7 separate regions of the Homo sapiens genome follow, and all the other regions are linked to region 1. Evidence: fine-mapped expression QTL. A gene starts in region 1. Each other region holds a variant in brackets. All regions are shown on one strand. Distances are between the middles of the regions.

What was found.
Region 2: its variant is fine-mapped to the expression of TRG-AS1 in whole blood (TOPMed, PIP above 0.99).
Region 3: its variant is fine-mapped to the expression of TRG-AS1 in T cells (TOPMed, PIP above 0.99).
Region 4: its variant is fine-mapped to the expression of TRG-AS1 in whole blood (INTERVAL, PIP above 0.99).
Region 5: its variant is fine-mapped to the expression of TRG-AS1 in whole blood (TOPMed, PIP above 0.99).
Region 6: its variant is fine-mapped to the expression of TRG-AS1 in whole blood (TOPMed, PIP 0.97).
Region 7: its variant is fine-mapped to the expression of TRG-AS1 in monocytes after R848 (Quach 2016, PIP 0.95). The same link has a PIP of 0.9 or more in monocytes after Pam3CSK4.

The regions. Positions count from the first base shown.
Region 1 is chr7:38,339,371-38,343,975 of GRCh38, forward strand. It overlaps TRG-AS1 (T cell receptor gamma locus antisense RNA 1), which reads left to right and starts at 2,051. Exons shown (of 4, transcript NR_040085.2): 1 at 2,051-2,429. It also overlaps TRG and the pseudogene TRGV6.
Region 2 is chr7:39,212,052-39,216,656 of GRCh38, forward strand. All of the region lies in intron 4 of POU6F2 (POU class 6 homeobox 2), which reads left to right. Among named protein-coding and RNA genes, the nearest start is that of SNORA20B, 110 kb to the right of the region's middle. The variant C/T (reference allele first, on the strand shown) is at 2,462.
Region 3 is chr7:38,370,863-38,375,467 of GRCh38, forward strand. The region is part of intron 3 of TRG-AS1 (T cell receptor gamma locus antisense RNA 1); the gene reads left to right. Among named protein-coding and RNA genes, the nearest start is that of TRG-AS1, 32 kb to the left of the region's middle. RefSeq lists a silencer at 3,626-3,920. The variant C/T (reference allele first, on the strand shown) is at 2,009.
Region 4 is chr7:38,359,473-38,363,785 of GRCh38, forward strand. All of the region lies in intron 3 of TRG-AS1 (T cell receptor gamma locus antisense RNA 1), which reads left to right. It also overlaps TRG and TRGV2. Among named protein-coding and RNA genes, the nearest start is that of TRG-AS1, 20 kb to the left of the region's middle. RefSeq lists enhancers at 3,482-3,531, 3,915-4,014. The variant C/T (reference allele first, on the strand shown) is at 1,991.
Region 5 is chr7:38,387,083-38,391,082 of GRCh38, forward strand. It overlaps AMPH (amphiphysin), which reads right to left. Exons shown (of 21, transcript NM_001635.4): 20 at 2,722-2,823. Among named protein-coding and RNA genes, the nearest start is that of TRG-AS1, 48 kb to the left of the region's middle. The variant C/G (reference allele first, on the strand shown) is at 1,599.
Region 6 is chr7:38,288,880-38,293,484 of GRCh38, forward strand. It overlaps TRG and the pseudogene TRGV11. Among named protein-coding and RNA genes, the nearest start is that of TARP, 18 kb to the left of the region's middle. The variant C/A (reference allele first, on the strand shown) is at 2,791.
Region 7 is chr7:38,305,408-38,310,012 of GRCh38, forward strand. It overlaps TRG. Among named protein-coding and RNA genes, the nearest start is that of TRG-AS1, 34 kb to the right of the region's middle. The variant G/A (reference allele first, on the strand shown) is at 2,503.

The DNA of each region.
Region 1 (4,605 bases):
AAGACTTGTTCTGAATAAGAAAAAGTGAAAAAGTTCAACTGAACTGATAAAAATATTGTTACCTATAGGGTCAGGGAGAGAAGAGGAAAGAGAAATCCAGAATGGGGCCTGGTGAGGTTGCTCATGCCTGTAATCCCAGCACTTAGGGAGGCCGAGGCAGGGGGATCATCTGAGGTCAGGAGTTCGAGACCAGCCAGGCCAACATGAGGAAACCCTGTCTCTACCAAAAATACAAAAATTAGCTGGATGTGCTGGCGGGCACCTGAAATCCCAGCTACTTGGGAGGCTGAGGTAGGAGAATCTCTTGAACCCAGGAGGCGGAGGTTGCAGTGAGCCGAGATTGCTCCACTGCACTCCAGCCTGAGTGACAGACTGAGAATCCGTCTCAAAAAAAAAAAAAAAAAAAAAAGAGAGAGAAAAAGAAATCTAGAATGTAAGTTAAAATCTCCAAATGCATCTTCGTTAAAATTATGACTTTAGTTCCATGTAAATAGTTTACATATGCAAAACAAATATGAAACAAAACAAAATAATACAACAAATGTCTAAAATTTTAAAATGAAAACTGAACAAATAAACTAGCTATATCAATGTTGGCATGAACATGTAAAGAAAAATTATTTCAAATGATTTTGTTGAAAAAATATTCGGATTATGTACCCAAAAAGGAAAGAAAGAGAGAGAAAAGCAAGGAAGGAAGAAATGAAAAAAGGAAGGAAGGAAGGGAGGGAGAGAGGGAGGGAGGGAGGGAGGGAAGAAAAAATAATAAAAGCAAGCAAGGAAGTAAGAAAGGAGAGAGAATAAAAGGGAGGGCAGAGGGAGAGAGTGTTTAACTGCATATCTAGGCCTAGTGTTTTAGTGGTATTTATAATATTGCCTATATTGTTATAGACATAAGGAGTAAGCAGCACTCTCAGCTGCGATCTCTGGACCATGATTGGATACATGATTCAGTATAAATACCCTTCCCATTTGCTGTCCAAAATATCTCGCTTCACAGCTGGACCCTAAGAAACAGAGTGAGTGGGCCTCCCCCATGTCCTAGGAGAGCTGAGAAAACCTTGCTCTCAGCCAGGCTGCTTAGCTGAGGCTTAGCTGAGATGGCAGCTTAGTCTTCAGGAAAGTCCTGGGGGAGGGTGGGGAACAGGGTACAGCTGCTGACAGGAGAGTGTAATATTAGGGGGGAGATCAGGAGTTAAGCTGTTTCTCTTTGTACAGAATACAGTAAATTCAGGGCAGGAAATGAGAGGGGACGGCTCTCTCTTGTGTACCAGAAGCAGCCACAAGACAGATATTCAGTGTGGTGTAGAGCAGGTCTGAATCACTCTGCCTGTCCTAGGTGGCACAGTAATAGACCCCAGAGGCATTTTCATTTAGTTTTGGAGGTATAAATTTCCAGCTTATCCTTCTACTTCCATAAGTATCATGCTTTCCTGACTGACTCCTGATTCCAACATATCCCTGGAGTTGCAGATGTCATAGTACAGAAGATGCTGTGGGGCCTTCCCCTCCTGGCGTAGGTACCAGTGGATGTAGAAGGCATTTTCTACAGGAAGATCACAGGTGATTACAGCAGATGACCCCATCTGCCTGGTGCCTGACTTTATTTTCGCTTCCAAGTTAGTAGATATCTGACTGGCTGCAATGGGAACAACATAAAATATAATGAGGTATTCCTTAGTATGGCGTCCCTTGCTAAAGAAGAAAAATCCAAAACAAAACCCAACCTGTGAGCCTCTCTGTAGGCAGCACACTTACCAAGAGACAGGAAAGCTAGAAGCAGGGCTAGGGCCCACCACATGCCTTCGTCTCTGGGGTCTTGAAAGAAAGGGCCCAGATGAACAGGAGCAGAAGATCCTCTCAAAACTCAGGTCCCACTCAACAAGGAAGTGATCCCTAGCACAGAAGGCAGTGGGGAAGGCTGGTCTTCCTGAGTCACAAGCAGGGAGAAGTGACTGAGGATGTGTCTTAGGGGACTCCCACGCCTTCCTTCCAGAAGGGTGGTGCCTGGGAGGACCTGCAGAGGAGCTCCTGCCTCTCTGCTCAGGCCAGTTCTGCAGCACCCTCTGTGGCAGCTGAGAGCAGGCCCTCTGCAGAAGAGAGCCAGGGGCATGGAGAGTTCAGGCCTCCAGCAGAGGGAGTGCAGATATGGGGAAAGCTGACCCCTGGAGTCAGCAGGCCCAGCCCTAGGAGGGGGCAGTCCCACAGCAGGCTCACACCCTGCCCTTCAGAGTTGCAGCAGCTAATGCTGATGCCAGGACCTTGTCCTGCCAGGAAGCCTCTGATTAGGGCTGTGAACCAACTTCCTTTTCACATCTGCAAGGACACTTGGAGGCAACTGCCCAAGGCCACTCTGAGGAGGGTTGAATGTTCTTTATTAAAAGGACTGAGGATCATGTGTGTTGGTGGGCCTTGGACTCTGCTCTAAGGTAAATGTGTGTGTGTGTGGCGGGGGGCGGGGGGGGGGGTGCCTGTAATCCTGTGGGTGTGATCTCTTTATTAGACAATTTTTGTTCATTAAAGTAGGAGTGTAAGTTTGTTTGTTTGCTTGTTTGTTTTTAAAGTAGTACTGGGTGCCATGTCATGAAATATTTGGAACATACTTGAACTAAAAACTTGTTATATATCTGAACTTCCAAATTCCCTGGGTATTGTATATTTTATTTGTCATCCCTACCCTCAGAAAGCAGACTAATATCTGCAGTGCACCTGGATTCACAGATGGAAATAAGGGGACAAAACAAGTACAGTAATATAATTGTGAAAATTCAGTAGGGCATGCACAGATTACCACCACCTCTGTAAGAAGTATATAGAGACACATGTTTGAAATATGCATAATGAGATGTAGAACAATGTCTCTCTTGGTTGTTGTGTTGTCCTAGCTCAAATTTTGCAGTTTCTGCTGTCATCACAGCTGGGAATGAGAAAGGGAAGGGGCTCCAGTTGGTCTCCCTCTGCCTCTGGAGCACACGTGGAGGACATGAGGCTTCCGCAGGAACAGCTCTGAAAGCTGAGTTCTCGGGTCCCTGTGAAGGAGGGAAGCTTGCCTGCCTTGGAGCGTGAAAAAGTCTTGCTGGACAGAAGTCTCACGGTTTAAAACTGGGAAGGGAGAGGATTGAGATCACACTAGAATGCACAGAAAATTCTTAAAACAAAAAAATGAGAGAAACTTCATCAGAATGTGAAAAGAACTATAAAGCTACAGTGCTGAAGAGAGGGCAATACTGGCACTAGAATGAGAAGATTCATGGAACACAGTGGAAAATGCAGTAAGAGAGCTGCATGTATGTAATATTTTATCATGTGATAAAGTGATATATTAATATTCACAAGGAAATAGTCAATTATTTAATAAGTTCTCTTTTTGGTATTGACTTACTGTATGGAAACAAATATTGTTGCATTTCTACCTTACTAGTTACAAATAGTGATTTAGTTGTAATAAAATGAAAATCATTAGACTTAAACGATGATGAATTGCATAGAAGTTCTAGGTGAGATTGGCCTTTCTAAGCCTGGCATCAAACTAGACACCCTAGAAAAATGGACAGATATTATTTTATTTTTCAAAGTTCAATTCACCATAGGTGCCAAATGTAAATAATAACACATGAGGAGTAATATCTTCAACACATTGGATAAAGGGTCAGTATCTCTAAAATAGTATATATTAATTCTTACGAACCAATAAGAAAAAATTAATCCTCCAAAAGGAGAATAGGCAAAGAGTATCACAAGGCGATTCTCAAAAGAAGAACTATAAATGACCTATAACGTTGTCAAATATTGCTAGTACTCCTAAAGATGGGGGAATGCAAATCAAATTAACAAATCTCATTTTCAGAACCACAGAGCTTGGATTGCCATCATTATTAAATTAAAGTATATGACTTAGGGAATGTTAATTAACCCCCCAATTTCTTATGTTACATTCAACGGTACTTTAAACCCTTAATGAAGTTTCTGTGTAGATTAAATAAAATGTGCATGCAATGTGCTTAGTACATTAACTACCAGAATGTCAGCACCCATATGTACCATCAATATTATTATTATCATTATTCATTTTTTTGAGACAGAGTCTCACTCTATTGCCCAAACTGGACTGTAGTAGTGTGATATTAGCTCACTGAAACCTTCACCTTCCTGGCTCTAGAAATTCTCCTGCCTCAGCATCCAAAGTAGCTGGGATTACATGTGTGCGCCACAACAGCCGGCTAATTTTTTGTATATTTAGTAGAGACAGGGTTTCACCATGTTGGCTGAGCGGGTCCAAATCTCCCGGCCTAAGTGATCCTAATGACTGGACTGGCCAAATGCTGGGATTACATGCATGAGCCACCGGGCGTGGCCAGTATTATTGTTATTAATACAGTAATTATTGTATAAAAATTCCTGATGGATCAATGATGCCATCATTAAATAATCAACACATAAAAACATTCAAATAAATGATATGGACGTCTTTATGCATACTTATGAAGTATGTGCACCTTTAGAAGTAAGACACACAATCCAGACACAGGAAAATATAAGATTTATTAAAATGTATAAAAACCAAATATCAGAATGAAAATATAAATATGGCATTGAAATAGAAAC
Region 2 (4,605 bases), 870 kb after region 1:
ATTACCATGAGGCTGAGCCTTTTAATTTAAGCTATCTCATGTCACTGGCCAGACTGGAGATTGACTGCCCCCAGACTGAGATGTTCGTTTCTGTCCTCTTGGCTATGATGTGGGTGGGAAGTGGGAAGCCAGAATGATGTGGTATGGAACATGGACAAGCGAGCTTAAGAAACAAGCTGAGCCTCTCTCATCAGCAGAAGGGGTGGCAGGTAAGGCAGGCTGGACATTGGCCTTTCTCTTGGGAACAGTAAAAGCCAGTAGGGCCTCTTATGAGCAAGGACTGAAACAAATTCTGAGCTCAGGAGATGCCAATGGTGAGGTTTAGGTTCTGAGTGTTTTGAACGAAGACCTTGGAAGCTCTGGGTGGGATTCAGAAATGCTCTACTCAGAGCATTCAGATGAGATCTAGAAATGACCTCCTCCTCAAAGCCCTGTGTCCCTATGTGAAATAAGTGAGTTCTGTGCCCTCTCGTACCTTGCCTTGAGTGCCCCTTTCCCCTTCCAAGTACCATCCATCATCAGCTACACTGGGTCTCTCCATCCCTGCGTCCTTTATCCCATGTTTATTGGGCTTTGGCCTCTGATGACTGTAAGCAAGCACACACCTGTGAAATAAGACGAATAATAGCCATAAACTCCAAAGAAAGAAGATAATTAAGCTTGCTCTGTCACATATTCCATAAGCTCCTTGAAAAGTCAGTGTCTTCCCTTTTACTATTACTTTGGAACACAGATAGCTGTACTAAAGATGTGCAGTCCTAGGGTAAAAACAGAGGTTGTTAGTTGATGTAGCAAAATAAAATCCCCTTTATGGAGCTCATGCAAATGTGTTGGATCCTTTGCTTTTTTGAAACATAGGCAGGAAATGAAGATATATACAGCCTCGATGTGAGTGACAACAGGCAGCAAAAGGGTTAATGGAACGGTAGAGCTGAGTCTACTTCTGGGACAGATGGTTCAGGTTAGTGACTTGTTCTCACAGCACAGGCCAGAATGACCTACTAATCACTGTAGGCAACATGAATGGAGAATATAAATGTGCTACATAGGAGATTTATGTCAAAGTGTGAACATTCCAGTTAAGTCAAGCATAACATTTAAATTAATGACCAAAAATACATTAAAGAGTGCTGCTAAACCTGAACATGGAAAAGCAATTAGGTTCAAGGCCAGTTGAAAAATCAAGGCCAAGGATGGTTTTTCTTCCCTTCACTCTAGCAGGAAACCTGCCCCGGTTTTCTCTGACTCCCCAAATTAAAGCCTGTGGATGCTGAAGTACCTGGGAATAGTTTGGGGATTAGGGATTTCATGTGCAAGTTACATTATATTCCATTTTGTTTGTATGATTGTTGTTTTCACTGAGGTATCCTTTACATACAAGAAAATGCATGGACCTTACTTGCTTAGTTAAATGAGTTTTGATAATTGCATCCACCCATGCAGGCTCCATCAATACAGAAAACATTTAATTATCTCTAAAAGATTCCTCTGTGTCCCTTTGCAGTCAGTCCCCTCCATCCAACCAGGTAATCTGTTTTTTTCCTGTTCTAGAACTTCACATAAATGGATTCATATTATATGTATTCTTTTGTGTCTGGCTTTTCTCATTCGGCATAATGTTTTTGAGGTTCATCCATGTTGTCGTGTATACAACAGTATAGTAGTTCCTTTCTGTTAATTTCCAAGCAGTGTTTCATCATAAAAATATGCTACATTTTGTTTATCTATGACCATTCCAACATCCCAGTGGGCAGACATCACGGAGGTTCCTTGATTGGGTGTCTCTAGGGAAGCACCTTTGGCCACTGTTCTCTTTGGCCCTTGGCCACACCCCTGGGAGATTCTTTCCTGTCCGTTATCTTCCTTGGCCACATCTGATGAGGAAGTTGAGGAATATACCTTTCTTCGGGGAGTTTCTCAGTCCCTGTATAGCTTATAGATGCTGGAGATCTAATGGGCTGCTTGATGTTTCCAACAGATAGGGATGTGTAGCTCCTTTGAAAATGCAGTCCCTCAGAAAAGGGAATGCTTCTTTTCTTTCTGCTTCCAGTCAGTTCCCTGTGCCAAAGTTTTTTCCAAGACAGACATCTTGAATCTAATTTATTTTGCTTTCTTGTTCCCTACACCCTTCTCTTTCAATTAAATCAGCCTTGATGTGAGGGCATTCTGGCCTCCTTGGTGTTCTTTGCACGTACTCCTAGCCCAGGGCCTTTTGCACAGGCTGTTCCCTCTGCCTGAAGCACTCTGTTCCCACCCAGAAAGCATCAAGCCTTCCTTCCTCCTCCTCCCCTGCCCCAGCACTCCTGTCTCCCTTACTCGCTTTCTGCATTTTCTTTTTCCCTAACACTTAGGACCTTTTACAAAATCTCAAAAGTGTTTGGTTTTCTTTATTTGGCCTTTCTGAGCATTTTGGGTGATGCCTACTGTAGCCATCGAGGGCAAGGTCAGCAGCATTGTGATG[C/T]TTGGGCCTGCTGCTGTAGAGGAGAATCTCTGTGTATGATGTATTGCTAATGTGCATCATTTATGTCTGACTCTGCCCCTAGAATGGAAGCCCTGTGACAGGCATCTTTATTTGGTTCAATAAAGTGGCCCAAGAACAGAGAAAGTGCCTAGCTTACTTGTAAAAGGTGCTCAAGTGTGAATGAGTGAATTTTAAAGACTAAGAGTCCAGTAAAGAGAAGTAAAGAGAGCATTCAGTGTAGAGAAGAAGGCATGAGGAGACTAGAGTCTACAGGTTCTATCAATAGCTCTGTCTGTTCAATGAAAATTGGGAATCCAAGGTGGCAAGAAATCAGACTACAGGAGCGGGAAGAAGGCAACACTGAGGACCTTGTATGCTTTGCCTGTGTGTGAGCGTGGCCATCATAGAGCCTGAAATGTTAGAGATGAACATACTTAAAAACAATGCAGTTATGCTATAATTTTTCATGGATATATGTTTGCATTTACTTACTTATGCCTGGGTAATCTCAAGAATTTGAAGCAGCTTGTAATGTAAGAAGCAGGAAGGAGGCCGAAAGTGGTAGCTCATGCCTGTAATCCCAGCACTTTGGGAGGCTGAGGCAGGCCAATTACCTGAGGTCACAAGTTCAAGACCAGCCTGGCCAACATGGCAAAACCCCATCTCTACTAAAAATACAAAATTTAGCAGGACATCATGGTGGGCACCTATAGTCCCAGCTATTCAGGAGGCTGAGGCATGAGAATCGCTTGTACTTGGGAGGCGGAAGTTGCAGTGAGCTGAGATCACGCCACTGGACTCCAGCCTGGGCAACAGAGTGAGACTCCATCTCAAAAATAAATAAATAAATAAAAACAAGAAGCGAGAAAGAGCAAAATCTTTTTAATAGAAAAAGAAAAAACCTAGAGTAAGTTTTGGAACTAGAAGACAAATCAGAACTATATATCGAGTTATATAGTTTTAATTATCTGACAGTAAAAGACCACACCAGTTTGATAAGAAACAGACCTATTTATTTTTGTTTTTCTATTAAGGCAACATTTATTCATTTGTTCAATGAATATTTACTGAACTTTCAAAGCATTAGAGGTAGTGATCTGGACTTAGGACATAGCAATAAACAAAGAGTTCCTTAATGCACATATACGCTACTGGGGGAGTGAAGTAGATGGAGGTGGGGAAGCGTGGCAGGGATGGGGATGTGATGCATTTTATGCAAGGTCATAAGTTGTGGTCTCTACACTGCACAGAGACCCAATGGATGAGAGGGATTAAGCTGTCCAATATCTGAAGAAAGAGTGTCCCAGGGAGAAGTCCTAAGTGCTAAGCACAAAATCTCAAAATCTCCAACAGGAAGGTGTGTTTCTTTGTTGATTTCATATTACATATGGGTCATAGGTGTGCAGTGACTCTGCTGCACATCCTTCACCTTCTAGGATCCAGGCAGAAGAAGCAGCCCCTGTCTGGGATATGTTTTTTTCGTTACAAAGGGAGCAGGGAATGCCAGAACTGCAGTGGCTCTTAAAGCTTCAGCTCAAGAGCTGCTCACATCACTTCCACTCACACGCTGTTGGCCAGACAAGTCACCTGGTCAAGCCAGCTGCTAGTGGTGTGGAGGAGGAAAATAAATAACCCTAAAGGAAGAGAGGAGGAGCACAAAATTGGAAACTATATGACAAGGCGCTGTGTCCAACAGTCATTGCATTAACGATACACTACAGAAGTATTTGACTTAGGTGATTCTTTCCAACACTGAGATTCTAGAATTCTATTAGGTGAACCCATTAGATCACATGGTCTATTCATGTGGTTTTTCAGAACACACACATTAACAATTTCTAACCATAGAATTCAAATGATAAATGTAAAAATGGGTAACGAATATATGGGCCAATTGGAGACGGTTTAAAATAGCAAATTAGGGCATACGAAAGAATGAATTCATTAATGTAACATTCAGGACAAGGCAAAAGTAGAGGGATGACAAGCAGATCAGTGGTTGCTGAAGTGGGGGACAGGTGAATTTAAAGGAGTACAAGGGAATTTGGGGGCTGATGCAACTGTTCTCTGTCTAGATCGTGGTGATGGTTCACTATTTGTGTTTGTCAAATTTGTACAAAAAGGGGGAATTTTATGGTATACAA
Region 3 (4,605 bases), 31 kb after region 1:
TTTTTTTTTAAATACAAGAAGAACTCATAGGGCTCCAGTTCTGAATTGAGGCTTCAAGTGGCCTGATGTGCTTCTGCTAGCTCTTTGCTTTCTGTCATTGTCATTAGAACAAATCCAGGCTAGCCTGTTGGAGGATGAAACCCTGTGTGTAGTGGAGCTGATTTATTCAGACCCAGGCACTTTGACCAGGCAGTCCCCCTCCCAGCTAACCCAGCAGCTGCCTGACATGTGGCCAAGCCCAGCCAAGATCAGATGAGCTTGGTTTAGATCAGCAGAACAGTCTAGCAAACCTACGCATTTGTAAGAATTTGTAGATGATTATTGTGCTAAGCCACTGAGTTTGGGATATTTGCTACATGGCGTTATTGTGGCAATAGTATGGATAGACAGACAGACAGATAGAATATATGAAGAGAAAAGGAAAGCTAGAAATACATATAATTTTTTTTTTTTGAGACGGAATCTCGCTCTGTCGCCCAGGCTGGAGTGCAGTGACGCGATCTTGGCTCACTGCAAGCTCCACCTCCCTGGTTCATGCCATTCTCCTACCTCAGCCTCCCGAGTAGCAGGGATTACAGGTGCCCGCCACCACACCCGGCTAATTTTTTGTATAGAAATATATATAATATTTTATATATAACATATTATACATGTATAAATACATTTATGTATATTTTTACAATATATAAATATGCATATTTCTTTGTTTTTTCTCTTTATATATATTTTTCTATCTCAATATTTACCATTATTTCTGTATATTTATCTCTATCTTCCTAACACTGCCGCACTCTGTGTGTCCACGTGTATGCTTCTGTCTCCACAGGTCTATCGTTCTCTCTCTCTCCCTATCTCTCCCCCTAACTCCAGTTCTCTCTTCTTGTATCTTTCCCTATTTCTCTGTCTCTCTCCATCACTGTCCCTGTCCCTGTCGCTATATTTATATCACAGTTTCTCTCTCTTCTCTGTTGTTTTCTCTCTCTCCATCTTCCCTCCCTCTCTCGCTGTCTCTCTGTCCCTTTGTCTCTCACCCTCTCTCTGTGTTTTGTATTTCTTTCTCTGTTTTCTCTCTCTCTCCCCCGCCATGATAGAGAACTATACCTCTCCACGTGTCTCTGTCTCTTGCTCTTTTTGCTTGTATGGCCACTGTCCTAGTCATTTTCTTTCCTTCTCACTTCCACTCTGCTCTCTGTCCCTCTTCAACTTTCTACTTTCTGTTGCCGTCACTGTCTCTATATCATGCCCTCTCCCTCTTCATATGAACACTCTGTCCCCTCTTGTGTCTCTCCTTTTGTCTCTATCAAGTCCTCCTTGCCAGTCTTCTGGGGTCCTGAGGGTGTGATCTGCTCACTATGGTGGGAGAGAGGTGCAAACTCACAGATGTAAATGTTCTTCTGCTTCTCCTCGTAATTGTACCTTTACATATCAAGAGGTCAGCATTATGATGATGATGATAGAAGAATTGTTTAAAAAAATAGCACTGCCTTGGGGAGAAAGTTCTAGTGCGCAGACAATTGCTTGTATTTCTATTTCAGTCTGCTGTGAGATGTTCCCTAGCAACACTATGGGAAACAATCTGCTTACCATGAATTATTAGAATTTCCTCACCTCTAAATGGTTGTCTGGGCTCTCTGTATCACTTTGTGACCGCAGTGACGCAGGTCAATAGTGTTTTCAATGAGCTTAAGGGGGCACACACCTCAGTATCAAGAGCACACAGCACAAGGCCTGGAACGTAGTAGGCATTTAATGTGTATCAATGAGGCTGGGCACGGTGGCTCATGCCTGTAATCCCGGCACTGTGGGAGGCCGAGGCAGGCAGATCAGTTAAGCCCAGGAGTTCCAGACCAGCCTGAGCAACATGGTGAAACCCAGTCTCCACAAAAAATACAAAAATTTAGCTGCACGTGATGGCACACGCCTGTAGTCCCAACTACTTGGGAGGCTGAGGTGGGAGGATCCCTTGAGTCTGGGAGGTCAAGTCTGTAGTGAGCTGTGATCGTGCCAC[C/T]GCACTCCAGCCTGGGCAACAGAGTGAGACCCTGTATCAAATATATGTATATTTGGATGGGATAAATGATCAGGTGTGTAGTTTAGAAGGCTATTATAAGGGTGTCAATAAGGCTGAATTATATAACATATATTCTTTCCATAGAAAATTAAAAGGAAAAATGAAAAATTCTGCAAAGAACAGGGTTTGTATATGCTCAGTCTGGGCTGGGGCATAGATGGGAATGAGTAACTCATGCACATCATCACTGATCATCCCGGGCTAAAATAGGAGTGGACAATGGAGAAGATACGAAGCCAGAGTGGATGGATGAAGGGTCCCCAGTTTACGTTCCTGTGTCCTGTGCTGCTCACTGGCCGCTGCATGTTCCCAGAAGACAGCAGCATCTCCTGCCAGTGCTGTGGCCAGGCGGTGTCAGGCATCGTTTCCAGGGAAGTTAAGTGTGTCCCAGAAACCTCAGCCAAAGCTTCACTTCCTGCCTGCTCTTCTTACAGGCCCTGTGGCTGCCTGGTGCCCTGGGAATGGTCCGGTCATGGGCCTCAGCCCAGGATGAGCAGCCAACAATGCAATCCCACGAAGAGTGTGCGGAAGGGAGAGGTTACTTCTCAAGATGGAGCTGCCAAATAGGGACACTTTGGAGAGTCTGGCCTGAGAACTTTTAGTTTCAAGAATGTATTGCTTTGGAAAAGACAGAATAAAAGTCCAAGCACTGCCACTTAGAGGTTGTATGTCCTTGGGAAAGTCACTGTACTTGGCAATTATAACCTTTACCCTGGATACACCATTCATCTCCTGGGGCCAGGGGTTGTGCCACCTTGTTCATTTCTAAACTAAATGATATCTAAGCTAGTCTTTACCACAGTTTAATTCTTACAATAATACTCCAAAGGAGATATAATCAACCACATTTCACAGATGAGAGAGTTGGAATCTTAAAAAGGTTAAACTCTTCGAGGTCATTTGACGAATAAATAATGGAGCCTGGATTTCAACTGAAGTCTAACAAATTCCAAAATCCTGGCTACCGGCCATTTATATTCGTGTGTGTGTGTATATATATATATATAAATTATATAACATATATACATATATCATATGTATATATATTATATATATTTCTTTTTAAGTTATAAAGTATAAGAGACCATGAAGAAAATTTCAGAAAGATTTTAGAAACTCAAGGGTCACTCTCAGCTGCCAGTAAGAAAACAACCTAAGATACTGTTGAATAGTATTCATTCAGTTAATTATGGTGGACCTCAAAAAGTCATAGGAATTTCCTCTAGCACTGTTAAGTAAATAGTTAATGGCCTTTTATTAAAAGACTAATTTTTAAAGTCATAGCAGAAATTCTTGATCCATTAAATGATAGCAAATACCCTTTGAGTGTCAAACATTGTATATATTTATTCTTTTCTTGCAAGCAGAAAATAGGTGTTACTTATCCCCATTTTTCAGATGAAATTGAAGCTTACAGAGAGGTTAAATAACTCCTCGAGGTCACCTAGCTAATAAACAGCACACCAAGAATTTGAACCAAACAGACAAGTCTCCAGAGCCTGTACCATAAGGGAACTGCTTGGCTGTTTATGATTCAGGGATTAATTTCTGTCTTCATGAAGCTGCTGCATTTTGATACAAAATGTTATATTTCCGATTTGATTTCAACTCCCAGCTTCATGCTTTAAAAGAAGTAGTGTTTTGACTGCATTTAGTTATTTGTACAAACCTGTAGCACCCCCTCCTGGCCATTCGAGGTATACCATACATGTTATATTACCCCAATATTAGACCCCAACGAATGGCAAAGACTTCGTATAACGAATGGAAAGGTCCCCAAATGCAAGGCAGGTTCCAACTGCACACCTTATGTGCTTGATAGTTTTAGGCAAGAGACTCCTTCTTGCAGGGCTGTCATTTCCCCCGCCTCAAAATCAGAGGAGTGGGTGATGTTTTTGGTCTCTTCTAGTTCTAATTGTGATTCTGAATTGAATTGATAAACTGGATATTGAAGGAATAGGTGTGGTGAAATGAAAAATGGAAGCTTCTAGTTTTTATTTTGATCCAACAATAATGCATGTTATTTGCTTCCTCTTGACTCAACATTGCTCTAGGAAAAGCCTATTCTATATAGACTCCTTAACAAAAACATTGATTCCTAAAGGTCTTCTGAATGTTTGGATAGCCAATGGCTTTGCAGCCCAGCCTGGCCACTACATGAGGCCGATGACTTTAACAAACTTATTTCAGGCCAGTGTAAATGCAGTGTTCAAAAATCCCACCTAAGAAGGATGGGAACACGGAGGTTTGTGTAGGTAACATGCAGGTGTGTGCACATGTACCCAAGAATGCACACACACATACATGGACACAACTGCAATTGATACAAAAGGCTGAACTGTGCTGATTCTTACAGGTACTTGGTTCTGGCCCAGTCTGGAAAAAAAGAAAAGATCCTTAGTCTAAACATGCATACAAAATAGAATTCCCACCATGCTTTGATGTTATCTATTTATAATTTTCAATGTTTCAATGTTTTGTGGTCTTAAAAATTACAAGGATTATTATCAATAATCCTTGTACCTAATGTGCCTTGA
Region 4 (4,313 bases), 20 kb after region 1:
GAACCAACTTCCTTTTCGCATCTGCAGACTCATGGAGGCAACCACTCAAGGCCACTCTGAGAAGGGTTGAACGTGCTTTAAATTAAAAGGACTGAGGATCATGTGTGTTGGTGTGTCCTGGACTCTGCTCTAAGGTAAATGTGTGTGTGTGTTTGTGTGTGGGGGTTGTGCCTGTAATCCTGTGTGTGTGACCTCCTTATTAGAAGATTTTTGTTCATTAAAGTAGGAGTGTGAATTTGTTTGTTTGCTTGTTTGTTTTTAAAGTAGAACTGGGTGCCATGTCATGCAATATTTGGAACATACTTAAACTAAAAACTTGTTATTTATCTGAACTTCCAATTCCCCCGGTATTGTATATTTTATTTGTCATCCCTACCCTCAGAAAGCAGACTAATATCTGCAGTGCACCTGGCTTCACAGATGAAAATAAGGGGACAAATCAAGTACAGTAATATTATTGTGAAAATTCAGTAAGGCATTCACAGATTATCACCACCTCTGTAAGAAGTATATAGAGACACATGTTTGAAATATGCATAATGAGATGGAGAACAGTGTCCCTCTCAGTTGTTGTGTTGGGCTAGCTCAGAGAGTTCAGTTTCTGCTGTCATCACAGCTGGGAATGAGAAAGGGAGGGGGCTCTGGTTGGTCTCCCTCTGCCTCTGGAGCACACATGCAGGACATGAGGCTGCTGTAGGAGCAGCTCTGAAAGCTGAGTTCTCGGGTCCTTGTGAAGGAGGGAAGCTTGCCTGCCTTGGAGCGTGAAAAAGTCTTGCAGGACAGAAGTCTCATGGTTTAAAAATGGGAAGGGAGAGGATTGAGATCACACTAGAATGCACAGAAAATTCTTAAAACAAAAAAATAATGAGAGAAACTTCATCAAAATGTGAAAAGAAGTATAAAGCTACAGTGCTGAAGAGAGGGCAATACTGGCACTAGAATGAGAAGATTCATGGAACACAGTGGAAAATCCAGAAAGAGAGCCACACGTATGTAATATTTTATCATGTGATAAAGTGATATGTTAATACCCACAAGGAAATAGTCAATTATTTTATAAGTTCTGTTTTGGGTATTGACTTACCATATGGAAACAAATATTATTGCATTTCGTTCTTACCAGATATAGATAGTGATTTAGTTGTAATAAAAACAAAATCATTACACTTAAACAATGATGAATTGCATAGAAATTCTAGGTGAGATTGGCCTTTCTAAGCTTGACATCAAACTAGACACCCTAGAAAAACTGATAGATTTTAATGCTTTTTTTTTCAAAGTTCAATTCACCAAAAGATGCCAAATGTAAATAACAACAAATGAGGAGAAATATCTTCAACACATTGGATAAAGGGTCAGTATCTTTAAAATAGTGTATATTAACTCTTACAAACTAATAAGAAAAAATTAATCCTCCAAGAGAGGAATAGGCAAAGAGTATGACAAGGCAATTCACAAAAGAAGAACTATAAATGACCTATAAAGTTGTGAAATAATGTTAGTACTCCCAAAGATGAGGGAATGCAAACTGAATTTACAAATCTCGTTTTCAGAATCACAGAGCTTGGATTGCAATCATTATCAAGTTAAAGTATATGACTCAGGGAATGTTAATTAACCCCCTCAATTTCTAATGTTACATTCAACAGTACTTTAAACCCTAATGAAATTTCTGTGTAGATTAAATAAAATATGCATGTAATGTGCTTAGTACATTAACTACCAGAATGTCAGTACCCATATGTAGCATCAATATTATTATTATCGTTATTCATTTTTTTGAGACAGAGTCTCACTCTGTTGCCCAAACTGGACTGCAGTAGTGTGATATTAGCTCACTGAAAACTCCACCTACCAGGCTCTACAGATTCTCCTGCTTCAGCATTCAAGTAGCTGGGATTACATGTGTGCGCCACTATAGCCAGCTAATTTTTTGTATTTTTAGTAGAGACAGGGTTTCACCATGTTGGCTAAGCTGGTCGCAATCTCC[C/T]GGCCTAAGTGATCCTAACGACTGGACTGCCCAAATGCTGGGATTACAGGCATGAACCACCGGGCCTGGCCAGTATTATTATTACTAATACAGTAATTATTGTATAAAAATTCCTGATAGATCAATGATGCCATCATTAAATAATGAATGCATAAAAACATTCAAATAAATGATATGGACGTCTTTATGCATACTTATGAAGTATGTGCACCTTTAGAAGTAAGACACACAGTCCAGACACAGGAAAATATAAGATTGATTAAAATATATAGAAACTGAATATCAGAAAGAAAATATAAATATGGCATTGAAATAGAAACAATACATACTCCGCTATGACAAACAGTGAAAAAACTCAAGTGAACTGCCAAAAATATTGTTACCTATAGTGTCAGGGAGAAAAGAAGAATGAGAAGTCTACAATGGAAGCTAAAATCTTCAAATGCATCATCTTTTATAATTTTGACTTCACTTCCATGTAAATGTTTTATATATACAAAACAGATATGAAACAAAACAAAGTAATACAACAAATTTCCAAAATGTAAAAAAGAAAACTGAACAATTAAAGTAGCTATATCAATGTTGACATGAACACATAGAGAAAAATTATTTCAAATGATTTTGTGGAAAAAGTATTCTGATTATGTACCCAAAAAGGAAAGCAAGAGAAAAGCAAAGAAGGAAGGAAGGAAAACGAAGGAGAATGGATGGAAGGAAAGAAGAGAGGAAGGGAGGGAAGGAGAGAGGGAGAGAGGGAGGGAAGGACGGAGGGAGCGATGGAGCGAGGGAGGAAGGGAGAGAGAAAAATAATAAAAGCAAGCAAAGAATTAAGAAAAAAGAGAGAGAGAATAAAAGGGAGGGCAGAGGGAGAGAATGTTCAACTGCATACCTAGGCCTGGTGTTTCAGTGGTCATTATAGTATTGCTTATATTGTTATAGACATAAGGAATAAGCACCAGTCTCAGCTGCGGTTTCTGGATCATGATGGGATACACAATTTAGTATAAATTCCCTTCCCATTTGTTGTCCAAAATATCTTGCTTTACAGCTGGACCCTAGGGGTACCCATTTGTCCTAGGAAGCAGAGTGAGTGGGCCTCCCCCATGTCCTAGGAGAGCTAAGAGAACCTTGCTCTCAGCCAGGCTGCTTCTCTGAGGCTTAGCTGAGATGGCGGCTTGGTCTTCAGGAAAGTCCTGGGGGAGGGTGGGGAACAGGGTGCAGCTGCTGCCAGGGGAGTGTAATATTGCAGGGGAGATCAGGAGTTAAGCAATGTTTCTCTTGTTCAGCACACGGTAAATTTGGTGGCAGGAAATGAGAGGGGGCGGCTCTATCTTGTGTACCAGAAGCAGCCACAAGGCAGATTTTCAGTGTGGTGTAGGGCGGATCTGAATCACTGTGCCCGTCCCAGGTGGCACAGTAATAGACCCCAAAGTCATTTTCAATTAGATTTCGCAGTATCAATCTCAAGTTGTTCCTTGTGCTTGCGTAAGTATAATACTTCCCTGGACTGACTCCTGATTCCAACACAACCTTGGAGTTGTAGGAGTCATAGTACTGAAGACGCTGTGGGGCCTTCCCCTCCTGGTGTAGGTACCAGTGGATGTAGCCGTTACTTCCTTCAGCAAGATCACAAGTGATTTCAGCAGATGACCCAGTCTGCCTGATGACTGACTTCGTTCTCCCTTCCAAGTTGGAAGATTTCTGACTGGCTGCAATGGGAACAACACAAAATATAATGAGGAATTCCTTAGTATGGTACTCCTTGCAAAAGAAGAAAATAAAACAAAACCCGTGATCCTCTCTGTAGGCAGCGCACTCACCAGGAGACAGGAAAGCTAGAAGCACCGCTAGGGCCCACTGCATGCCTTCCTCTCTGGGGCCTTGGAAGGAAAGGGACCAGATGAAGAGGAGCAGAAGATCCTCTTAAAACTCAGGTTCCACTCAACAAGGAAGTGATCCCTAGCACAGAAGACAGTAGGAGGAGGTGGTCTTCCTGAGACACAAGCAGAGGGAAGTGACTGAGGATCTGTCTAAGAGGACTCCCAAGCCTTCCTCCCTCCCAGAAGGGTTGGTGCCTGGGAGGACCTGCAGAGGAGCCCCTGCCTCTCTGCTCAGGTCCGTTCTCCGGCGCCCTCTTGTGGCAGCTGAGAGCAGGCCCTCTGCAGAAGAGAGCCAGGGGCAAGGAGAGCTCAGGCCTGCAGCAGAGGGAGTGCAGAGGTGGGGGAAGCAGACCCTGGAGTCAGCAGGCCCAGCCCTAGGAGGGGGCAGTCCCACAGCAGGCTCACACCCTGCCCTTCAGAGTTGCAGCAGCTAATGCTGA
Region 5 (4,000 bases), 47 kb after region 1:
ACAAAGTATAAAACCAACTCCCATCAATTCAAGGGAATTATCCAGTAATTTATATGTCTGCTAAAACAAAAATAAGCAATTTTCAGATATAGAAAACAGAGTCAGACTCTTTACCACGTATGGTCTACCTACTATGTCTAGTATCAATTAAAAAATTATTAGACATGGAAAAACAGGAAAATATGACCAAAAGATTAAAAAGCAAACAATAGAAATATGCCCTGAGATGGCCCAGCTGTTGGAATTAGCAGTAAGAAATTTAAGGCAGCTATTATAAATTTGTTCAAGTATATAAATTGAGAGACAGTAATAATGAAAGACTATAAGTGGGAAATCTCAGCCAAGAAATGGAAACCCATATGAAATAACAATATGGAAATGAAGAATTGTAAGAATCTAATATCTGAGATGAAAAAGTCACTGGATAAATTTAACTACGAACTCAAAGTAGCAGAGGAAACACTCATAGCACTTGAAGGCAGATCAATAGAAATTATCCAACCTGACTACCAGAGAGAAATAGTGAAAGAAAAAGAACAGCATCTTAGCTATCAAGAAGTCCAACTTAAGTATAATTAGAAACCCAGAAAAAAAGAACAAAGAGAATAATTCAGAAAAAAATTAAAGATAAAAAGCAAATGTAGTGAAAAACATTAGGTTACAAGTCTAAGGATCTCAGTGATTTTCAAGTATGAAGACCATAAAAAAAAAAAACCTACCCAAGCACAATATATTTAAACTGATGAAAATCAAAGATACAGCGAAATTTATTAAAAGTAGTCAGGGAAAGTCACTTTGCATACAGAGAAGCAATATTAAACAAATGACAGCTGATTTCTAATTATAAACAATAGAGACCAGAAAACAATGAAACATGTTTAAAGAGTTGAAAGAAAAAAAAATCAACTCAGATTTCTACCTTAGTGAAAGTATTGTTAAAAATTAAGAATAATAAAGACATTTTCAGATATACAGAAGCCAAGAAGATTTGCTGCCAGCAGACTAGCACTTCAGAAATAGCTAAAGGAAGTTCTTTAAGCAGAAAGGAAATTAAGACCAGATAGAAACTCGGACTTAAGGAAAGAATGAAGACCTGGAAATGGTAAACATGGTGGTAAACATAAAAGACTAACTTTTTTTCCTTTTATTTCTTTACAAAATAACTTCTGGTTAATGCAGACAAAAATCCCATTATAAATGGGATTTTTAATATCTTTGAGATGTGTGATGCTGACACCTTTTCTTTGTATTGGTAATTTATGCTTTGTGACTTTTCTTTCTTGAGTATTTCTAAGGTTTTAATAATTTTGTTAATCCTCTCAAAAACCTACTTTCGGCTTTATCAATTTTATCTGTTATAGTCCTTTATTGCATTCATTTGTGAATTTATTTTTATTATTTTCTTCCTTCTATGCATTTTTCTATTTAATTTCTATTTAATGATCATTATGAAATTTTTTTTTAACTCACACTATGATTTATTTGACCCATGGGTTATTTAGAAGTGTATTTTAAAATTTTTAAATCTTTGGGGGCTTTTAAAGATATATTATTGTTATTAATTTTTTGTTTTTTGAGACGGGGTCTTGCTCTGTTAC[C/G]CAGGCTGGAGTGCAGTGGTGTGATCATGGCTCACTGCAGCCTTGAATTCCTGGGCTCAAGTGATCCTCCCATGTCAGCTTTTTGAGTAGCTAGGACTACAGGTGCACACTGCTGCACCCAGCTAATTAAAAAAAAAATTTTTTGTAGAGATGAGGTCTTGCTATGTTGACCAGGCTGGTCTGGAACTCCTGGCCTCAAGTGATCCTCCTGCCTTGGCCTCCCAAAGTCCTGGGATTACAGGCATGAGCCACCCTGCCCAGCAGATTATTGTTATATAAATTTCCAATCTATTTTATTGTGGTAGAGACTGCTTGACCCAACACCTGATGTATCTTGGTAAGTGTGTTGTCAAAAGAAAGAACAAAATGTTGAACATATTAAGTCTTAACCTCAAAGGCAGTGATGCTTGAATTTATTTTTTAAGGGGAGAGCTCATAAATCTCTTTGAGAATAGTATGGAAGTTAGAGTTTTTCTCTCCAGAAAAATATGTTTACAGATGCATTTACTTGCTCTGCATACCATTTCAAGGGCTCACATATTTTATGAATGAGAACAAGATGGGAGTTCTCAGTACCTTACATCAGACCACTCTTTTAGGAAGTGATATTTTTAAAGAATCTCTTTAAGTTGAGGTATAACTTAAATACTGTGTAATGCAGAGATGATTAGGTATATATAGTTCAATGAGTTTTGACAAATACATGCAGACATCCCTCTCAAGATACAAAGCATTTCCATCACTCCAGAGGGTTCCCCAGGTTCTTTCCTCATCAATATCCACACACCCAGAGGCAACCACTTTTGAAGGGGTCTTTTAGTTCACATTCATAGTGTCTGCATTTCCTGAAGACAGGTGTTACAGAGATAACATTCCCAGAAAGTGGTTACGTGATAAGAAACAGTCAACTGTTTGTATTATATAAAAAAAGAATGCAACAGCATCCCAAAAGGGTGTCCTAGAAACCTCGTTAATGATCTATGCTGTCACAAGCCCTTAAGCCCTTTTCAGATGGCTTGTAGCATCTCAGAAAATAGAAACATCTTTAGGAAGTGATTGTGTCCAACAGACCCTCAGAAAAAAATCAACGTAGCCCAAAGCATCTTCCTATCTTTTCTTTTACCTGATCAGCTTCTGAATCTGAGGGGACCACCAGCACCACATCACCCCTTTGTAAGGTAAGTTCATCAGAATTTGCTGCCTCAAAATCATGCAGTGTTTCCACCTGCAGAAGATAAGAATACATAAAAATCAATTTCCCAGCCAGATTTCAAGCAGACACTCTTACAAGTCACTCTCCAACCTGGATGAAAAGAGGAAGATATTTGCCATATCCCAAGGAGGAAGAAGGCCTCTAAAGCCAGAAGGGAAGTCCTATTCTCTGATATGAGGCCATTCATATGTATATTTATTAATAGTAATGCAATGCCCTCTACAACAGGGAAAAGCACTATATTAATCAAATTTTAATTCATCTTATTTTTGTTAGAGATTTGCATTTTATTATCGCTGATGCTTTATTACTGTTTGTTGTTTAACTGGAACCCAAAATGTCTAAAGCTCCTCTAACCCCAGCTTCTGTCAAATAATAATAAGGAAAACCACCACTTGCAGGTTATACAGTAATTACTACTAAATAAAACTCTGTGATCAATTCTGTGTAAATATATTTCCTTCCTTCCCTATCCTACCTTATATACAATGGCAACCAGTTTCTTTTCCTTTCCCATTTTGAAAAAGATTTCCTTAAAATTTTATTATAGAAAAATATTTTAAAGCAGAAGAAATAACATAATGAACCCCTATGCGTCTGTCACCCAGTCTGAATCACTCTACTGTCATGGCTGATTTTATTTTTCCCACCTTTCCCTCAACTCCACCCCTGAGAGTAAACATTGGCTTTTAAAGTGTGTATTTTGCCATTGAGCATATTCATAGAATCACAAGCTGTCAGAGCTGGAAATGGATTATGTTATCCCTAAATTAATTTTTCTGATTGGAAAACTGATACCCAGAGAGAGGGTCTATATGGGGTGCCTTAGGTTATTCTACAGTTAGTGAGGAGGCCAGAATGGGCCCAGCAAGCTCCAGCCGTGCTTGGCACAAGGCTTCTTGGACTGCTTGTGCTCCAGTTAAAACGGAACCTGGCAGGAAACAACCCCTTATCTAGAGGTTTAGCTTTTCCTCCAAATTAATTTATTCATAAATCCATTATAGCCACCCCTGTCCCCACAAGAGGTAGCAAGGTAGCAGTTACTTTCTAATGGAGAGAGACAAAGACAGAGAGAGAGAGAGAGAGAGAGAGAGAGAGAGAGAGAGAGAGAGAGAGAGAGAGAATGATACAACATTTTACACTTTAGAAGAAAAAGAGCTGATTTTTAAATGTAAAATCAAATTTAAAA
Region 6 (4,605 bases), 50 kb before region 1:
TAAGACCTGACCTTGTGTGGCCACTACAGTCACTCTACACTGCTCTTTTGAGGATTAAATAAAATAATCCATGTAAAATACTTAACACTGACATTGTGAAAAGCTGAATTCCATCTTTTCATTCACCTATTTCTTGAAAAGTTCATGTTCTCAGGCTCTGTATTTCCTTAACAATCTTCTTCCCTTTGCTTTTATGTATGCATCAGGTGAGAGGTGAGGTCTGTTGAGGACTCACTCAGGCGCTCAGGTCATTCTCCCTGTGGACCACCATGGTCAGGAATCATGGCGGACAGGATGCGGGACTCCAGATTCTGAGTCTGCACCTGGAAAGGGGCTGACCTGCCATGGAGGCTCCTGGTATTCCCTCATTGGGCTTTCAATAGCATTTCTCCTCTTATCCTATCAGGATGGTACAAGCTGATTCTCAGAAGGGAGAATGGAGAAAAAATACGTTGCAATTACTTCAAGGACTGTAAGTAGACTGCATGTATGGCAATATGCTGTCAGATATCCATAGTACTAAAGGTATAAATAGGAGAAAATCTTTGAAACTCCGGATTTTTCATCATTAATTTGTTGTTTGAAAGTTTCAAAGAAGTGAGAGAGGACTTTTACAGTTTTACAGTTTTATATTTTGTTTCATTATTTTTTGAAAGTTCCCAACCACCCAATGATTAATCATGGAATAAACATAAAATAATTGTCAATCATTATTTCTTATTTATTAATTTCTGAGGGGTATTATTATGGTTATTTCCTTTACCGATGCAGGAAGCATGTATTATCTTTCTTCTTAACTATCTAATCCTATTTTACTCAGGATTTTTAGTTTTCTTTGCAGAACCCTGAAAGACAAGATCTCCAAAGCATAGCCCCCATCCTGAGATCCCCCACTGTGCCTAGGAGCTGGGTTCCACTGCACAGTGCTTGTTTTGTCCCAGCACTGAGCCCTGAGTGTGAAGTGAGCTGCATGCTCTTCCTCTAGGACACAGGATTTATACTTTCATCTCTCATATACCCCAAACAGGTGATTGTTTACTTACAGATCTACTTACTTGTCCCTAGATTTCTTCAGGATGGCCTCAGGTGCGAATAAAAAGCACACAGTTACTATGTTTGACAGATCACTCTAACTTTGAAAACCTCCAATGCTCATGAACCAAATGGGAAAATAATGATAACAGCAGGGAATATCTATGTAAAATATATACTGCTTCCTACTTTCATTCTGAACCAGTTACTAGAAATCTCTACGTAGCGAATTACTAGACAGATGAATTTTGCTCTAAGCCACCCACTCTGTATTTTCAGAGTTCCCAGATATCCTAATGTTGTAGGAAATAGTGTCAAAATGTCCCTAATTTGGATCCTAATTGCTGACACTGATATGGGATTGGGGGAGGGAAGTGCAGGGAAAGGAAGGACGTGGTCCCTGTCGAGGGCCCCACTCCCAGGCCTGTGCCCACGGACCTAGGTGAGGACAGGCACTCCTGCCTCCACGCCCAAATGTTGCATTTCCCAAGACCACCCTGGCCCGCCACGCCTCCATCTTGTGCCTATAAAACCCCTGAGACCCTAGTGGGCACACACACAAGTGGCTGGACATCGAGAGGAACACTAATGTGGAAAAGCACACCTACAGAGACTGGCGGGCTGCAGGCCATCGACTGGCAGAACAAAGCAGAGTTTGGCGAGACTGGCGGGCTGCAGGCCATCGACTGGCAGAACAAAGCAGAGTTTGGCGGGGTGGTTGGAGGAAAGCCTGGCCGCTGAGCAGTCAACTCCAGGGGAAAACCACCTTCCCACTCCATCTCCCGTCTGGCTCCCCCATCTGCTAAGAGCTACTTCCACTCAATAAAACCTTGCACTCGGCCAGGCGCGGTGGCTCACACCTGTAATCCCAGCACTTTGGGAGGCCGAGGTGGGCAGATCACGAGGTCAGGAGTTCGAGACAATCCTGGCTAACACGGTGAAACCCCGTCTCTACTAAAAATACAAAAAATTAGCCAGGCATGGTGGGGGGCGCCTGTAGTCCCAGCTACTCGGGAGACTGCCCAGGAGAATGGCGTGAACCCGGGAGGCGGAGCTTGCGTGAGCCGAGATTGCGCCACTGCACTCCAGCCCAGGCGACAAAGCGAGACTCCGTCTCAAAACAAAAACAAAAATAAAAAACTTGCACTCATTCTCCAAGCCCACATGTTATCCAATTCTTTCAGTACACCAAGGCAAGAAACCCAGGGATACAGAAAGCCCTCCGTCCTTGCAATAAGGCAGGGGGTCTAATTGAGCTGGCTAAAGCAAGTCACCTATGGACAGCCAAACTAAAAGGACACCTTGTAACACAGGCCCACTGGGGCCTCAGGAGTTATAAGCATTCACCCCTAGACACTGCTGTGGGGTCGGAGCCCCACAACCTGCACGTGTGCATGCTCCCCCTAGAGGTTTGAGGAGAGGGGCACCAAGAAGGGAGCCACATCCTTATCGCACGCCCTGAGAGGGAACAAGAAAACTTTTCCCGTTTGGACACCATGAATCACCAATGTGATTCTGCACACCAAGGGAGCAGAATCTAAGATGTCTTCCTGCAACATTCCAGAAGAGCTGCAGGGAGGGCAGGCTCCGGCTGGGCACCCAGCTGAGCAAACCGCTGTGGTTGCCCACATGGAGAAGGATGTGGACAGGCACAGACTCGGAGATAGTTTCTGTGTAGGTTATCTTGACAACTCTAACACTGTGGTGCCTAATCCAGCAGGCACAGTGGTACACCACCTCATCTTCTTTCTCTAAGAA[C/A]TTTATTTTCAAAGTGGAAGTGGAAGTGTGAGCATTTTTACTTACCTCAAGTTTCTTAGTCTTCCCACCTGAGCAATCTTGAGCAGAGATTGTCAAGAAGACATGTAATAAATATTCTAAGCCTTTGTTTGGTTTCTGCCAGTACCAGTGTATGATTTTACTGCTAAAGCCTTGGATGGATGCCTTCCAAGATATGTGGGCACTCTTATTTGCTGGTCTGGAAATAGATATTTCAGGTTGTTCCAACTGCCCAAGTGCAATTGCAAGTGAAGAGAAATTCCCATAAGCCAACGATACGTGAAGAGGTAATAATACAGAATGACTTCAATCTCTTCTGTAGACTGAAATGATTAGGGGGCAACTCACAAACCCAGAGGGAGAAGAAGATAACAGCTACTACCAGTGGCATGCTTTCTGCCAGTCTGGTTCCCCAGGGAGAAGGTAACCCTGTTCACTGGAGGTCTCAAGTCAGTGGCAGAAGGCGGGGCTGTTGAGGTCTCTCAGAAGTACTAGATGAGGTGGTTCCTTAGGGTTCTTCATGAGCTGCTACAGTTATGAGCAGTTCCAGGGTTTCCTGCATCCCATGAGTGCTGGGCAGATCGGGTAAGTGGGTTAACTATCTGGAAAGAAATACCTAGTATGAATGTGTACCTCTAGGGGTGGGGCAGGGATGTTCTCTTGCCCACTCTCCCATTCCCCAGCAGTACCATATTGCAGAAATATGGCTTTGAAAATGTGAAGATAAACCTGCAGTGTTCTGTCCCAATGACTATCTTTCTGTAATTAGCTGTTAATTCAGAACTGCAGTAAGAAACTTGACAAGCATCTAATATCCATTTACAACTTGCTACTTGTCTAGATGTTTTCTTATATTATTTTACTTGATCCTCTCAACAGTCCTGTGCAGTAAGTTTTATGATTATCTCCATGTGTCAAATGAGGACAACGGCAAACAGAGTTTGAGTGACTCATTCAAAAACACAGAGCTGGTAAACATAAGAACTCAGGTGAGTAGCAGTCATCCGTTAAGGAAAATCTGAGTAAAATGAGATATAAAAATTGACAACAAAAGGCACCCATCATTTACTTTTCCTTTGAATTTTTCTCAACATATTTATGGTTGGAAATAGAATAGCTTGGTATTGTTCATTGCAGCACTATTCACGGTAGCAAAGACATGGTATTAACCCAAATGCCCATCAATGATAGATTGGATAAAGAAATTATGGTACATATATACCATGGAGTACTATGCAGCCATAAAATGGAAGGAGATCATGTCCTTCACAGGAAAACGGATGAGCTGAAAGCCATTATCCTCAGCAAACTAATGCAGGAACAGAAAGCCAAACACTGCATGTCCGCATTTATAAGTGGGAGCTTAATGATGAGAACACATGGACACAGGGAGAGAAACAACACACACTGGGGCCTATTGGCGGGCAGGGTGTGGGGAAGGATAGCATTAGGAAAAATAGCTAATGCATGCTGGGCTCAGTACCTAGGTGATGGGTTGATAGGTGCAACAAACCACACAGCACACGTTTACCTATGTAACAAACATGCACATCCTGCACATGTACCTCAGAACTTAAAAGTTAAAAATTTTTAAAAAAGAAATAGAATGGCTTGGTATTATTTATACATATGATATATGTATATATTTCGGTGGGATTTACATATTTGGCTTTATACTCTCTTATTTTGGTTACTTTATTATCATGAGCAATACTGCAGGTCTTGAGTCTATGTGCACATTATTTTTAGTGACCGAATACAATTAAACACTCCTATACCACTTAACCCTATAGAATG
Region 7 (4,605 bases), 34 kb before region 1:
TCATATCTAGCAGCTGTAATAAAATTCTGTGTTGTTACTTTGCCAGTGTGGCCTTTTGACCTATGAATGAGAGAATCACAACTATAGAAAACTCTTTAAAAAAAAATTGAACCTGATTTTCAAGCCCAACATCTCACAATTAATTCAAAAAGTGAGTTTGTGGCAGGCTGTGGTGGCTTACGCCTGTAATCCCAGCACTTTAGGAGGCTGAGGCGGGCGTATCACGAGGTCAGGAGATTGAGACCATCCTGGCTAACACGGTGAAACCCCGTCTCTGCTAAAAACAAACAAACAAAAAAAAATTAGCCAGGCGTGGTGGCGGGCGCCTGTGCGCTGCACTCTAGCCTGGGCGACAGAGTAACACTTCATCTCAAAAAAAAAAAAAAAAAAAAAAAAAAGTGAGTTTGTTCTGGGCAACTACCATCTCTTTCTATGGGTAGTAAATATCATGGATTAGCTACAATAAAGAAAGGACAAAAGGTGACATGATTTATTTTAGAGAATAAAAATATGTTGGCCACATTTCCAAAACATGATCCTCATTACACATTTTGATCATTTACTTAAGTCTGGGCTGTGAGGTTTTGATCCCTCTCCAGGTATCCCACCCATGATATTATCTGCTAAAGCAAGTTCACAAGAACAGAGAGGGTTTTCTGTTTTCTTAGCCTTTTCCCCTCCAGTGAGAAGAAGGGTCCTAAGGCAGAATGCCGGTGGGGAGCAGGGTGGGGGTGGGGTGGGGGGTGGGAACTCTTCCAAATGTGTGTTCAGCATGACCCTTTAGCCATGGCTTCTTGAGTCACTGCCCATTCTGTCTTGAGTCACTGCCCATTCTGTCTTGACCTAGCTCTGCAGGACTAGGCAGTAAGTCCGGGCCAGCGCATAATTACCCACAAATGCCACAGTTCATTCCTATAAAGTTTTGTTTGTTTGTTTTTGAGACAGAGTCTTGCTCTGTATCCCAGGCTGGAGTGCAGTGCTGCAATCTTGTCTCTCTGCAACCTCTGCCTCCTGGGCTCAAGTGATCCTCCCACCTCAGCTTCCGGAATAGCTGAGACTACAGGCAAGCTCCACCACACCTGGTTAATTTTTGTGTTTTTGTAGAGATGGAGTTTCACCATGTTGCCCAGGCTGGTCTTGAATTCCTGAGGACAAATGATCTGCCTGCCTCAGCCTCTGAAAGCGCTGGAATTATAAGCCTGAGCCACTGCCCCTGGCCCTATTTCCATTAAGTTAATAAACCCAAAGGGTATTCAAAGTGGCCCAATAGTGCACTTGAAAGAGCATGAACTATTTGTTTGGACAGATAACTGCCCCTGTCTAAACATCAGTTATTTCTTTCATGAATAAGTTTATTTACCAGGTTCTTATGACAATCACCTGAAATTCTGAATATGTAGAACATCTATCCCATTTTCTGGCAGCCAGTGGGAACTGAGTGGATATGAATTCCATCTTGTTCCTTGCTGGCATCTTCACCCTGAGCAATTCACCATGACTAGAAGTTTCTAAGAAATGATATAATGGACCTTGCTTTCTCTCTGAAATAATCATGCAGTTTCAACAAACATAGTCTCTAAATAGGAACCTAAGTCAATAGGAAATGATGTCAAATCAGACACTTGGGGGTATAGGTACTGGCATTTGTGGGGTGAAATTGATAGTCATCAGACTCCCTTTCTGGTTTCCTGTGATCACAGAGGCATCATCTGAGGAACACAGGAAGTGCTGCAAGCTGAGGCTGAGGCCTAGCTGGGGCAGAGGGCTGGACGAGGCTCTTCCACATTGGGAAGGATGTGGTCGCAGACATGATAATGGGGCAAGTGCCCATTACCTCAGCTCCAATGTCATGCTAGTTTCCTGGGGGCCATTATATTGGGTCATCATGTCTTTCTATTTTTCTAGGAATTTTATATTAAGAACTAAAGGGAAGTAGACAGAATTTTATATAGAGAATTTATATACAGAATTTTATATATGGTTGCAGCTCTTTGCCTGTAATTGACCTGGAACAGGGTTTTTTTCCAAGTAAATATCAAATCCTCAAAAGCCTGATTTGGTGTTGGTCAGTACCTGAGTGTGTATGAAAAGTTCTATCTAAATACCCTACAGTGAAAATATATGCTTCATTTCTGCTAATGAAATAAAGATTTTTACTTGCTTCAATTGTTTTTACCCAATTTCAATTAGAAACAAAATAGCATTTTCAATGAAACCAAAGTTATCAAGAAATGAGACATTCATTTTCAAAAAAATCCCTCAGCCAATCTGAGAAGTAGGAGAACAAGTTCACATTCCCAGAGTGAAGAACAGGTGCATATCTGTAGCTGTGACGTCCCGTCTGCTCAGGCTGAGTGCCTGAGACAAGGCTGAGGAAATAGGGAACCTGGAGCAGGAGAAGCTGCACCAGGATGAGGAAGGGGAACCTCAAAGAGTGTTCACAGAGAAAATGGGTGTCCTTAGGCCCTGCGCCCAGATCAGTCATTTCTGAGGTTGCTGATT[G/A]GTCAGGATCACATGGGAACTTTACCCATAGCTGTATGACACCATGATAATCAGTCCATTTGCCAGGGTAAAAGTTATTCACCTTGTTATCTTGCTAACTCTTAGAAACTTTTAGAAAGATTCTTTTTCATTATTATTATTTCATCATGATTATCTAACTGATTTCAGGGGAGAGTTGGTCCAAGTTACCACGTGGGCTATGACCTGAAGCCACCTGTCCACTTTTCCAGGTGAGAGTCCTCACTGGTTTATCTGGCCACCAAACGCTCACGGCACAGACCCAACACTTCCATGACCCACACACAGGGCTCTGCTCTGGACCCATGGTGGATGTAGGACCTGAGAGTCCTATTTGGTGTGGAAGTAGAAGAGCTACCTCATCACCTCCTCACTGGGAGAGGAGGGGGTTTCCAGGGAAATCCCAACAGTGCTTTTCAGAGAAAGTCTTTGCAAAATTAGAGTCCCCAGGAAAGCTCTTACTGTAATTAGCCTGGATATAGCTCATGAGCCAAAGGTTGGAGTCATCAGTTTTGTCTACCTCTTAGCAAGTCTTTGAGAAATATGGCCAACTACCCCAGGGTTTCTCAGCCTCTGCATTATTGACATTTTGGGCTGGATAATTCTTTGTTGTGGGGCTGTCCTGTGCATTGTAGGATGTTTAGTAACACTTCTGGCCTCTACTCACTAGATACCAGTAGCATTCTCACTCTGTTTGTGACAGTAAAAAATGTCTCAGACATTACCAATGTCTGCTGGAGAGGGGCTTGCCCTCCACTGTGAATCTCTGGTTTTGTCCCCTTCTTTTGTATTACTACCATTCTCCTGAGCTTAGAGTGTCAGCGGAGATTGGGACAAAATGAAACTCCCACTGAATATCCAGTATGTAAAAATTCTCATCATTTAATGAGCAATATCACTTAATCTTCTTTGCCACCATCTATTTTCTTGAGGAATTGGAGTGGATGTTACAACAAATACCTCTATCACTCAGCATATAGCACTGCAGCTTTGCTAGACCACTTGTTACCTGCTACTTTCATATAACACATGCTAGATTTCGTTTTTGTTAAGTCAAAGTCATAAGTTGTAGGGATTGTTAAAGCCCCTTATTTCATCAAGAAGGATGCCTTCCCTATAGTGGGAGCTCCATAAATATTGACTATCCTTAGGAGATAATTCATATGAGAAATCATATTAGAATGAATGAAAATGTGTTTAAAAAAAACTATAACTCTTTACTTTGTTATGGTGTCTACAATTTCCAAAACTCTTTTACAAACATTGGCTTATTTAATCCAAACAATATTTTGAGGCAGGAAGGGATTCCCCATGGGGAAGAGGGGGTAATGTAAGGCCTCTCAGCTAGTAAATGGTAGAGCTGGAACTAAAACCTATTTCTTCAATGCCAAGCAAATCCACGTAGTGTGCTATACAGGCGAGCATGCAATCATTCAGTCCTGCTTTTAATTCCAGTTCAGCCTGCTGTTAGCTTGACTTGTTGCTATCTGACACCCAGTGCCCTCAACTATGAAAATGAAATTGAAATCCCTATCTACCAGCATTGGCTTAGATAGGTGCATAATACGCCTGGAATAAAGTGGGAGCTCAGTGGGTTCCATATCTTTCACCTCCTTCCTCTCTACTCTGCCTCCTTGTTGAAGCAGGATGAGCACAGAGCTACTGTTAGGAGGCCTAGTTTGGCTTTGGGGTATGCTCTTTTTCTTAGGATTTTAGTTCCTTGACTTGAATGACAATAAATAACATCTCTAGACAGAGGAATTCCCCATCATGAGGTGTGGTGGGGCTCTCAGCATTGCCCTTTAAGTGGAGGCTTTTTGTGGTGGGGCCTCACGACCAGTCGTCGGGCTGCTGCACCCATCCTCTTCCCCCAGAGAGGTTCCCCACATCCACGCCCCACCTCGCAGCAAACATGGGCAAGGAGGAAACTGGCTGCAAATGTCCCATTTATCCTGTACCTGAGGAGGTGGTAAAAATTAATTCACTGAAGAGTTTGATTTAAAAAAATGAAGTTCTATAAATAACAACATACCTATAAATTTGGGATGCTTTTTCCTAAAATATGTCCTTTCGATATTAGAAAAT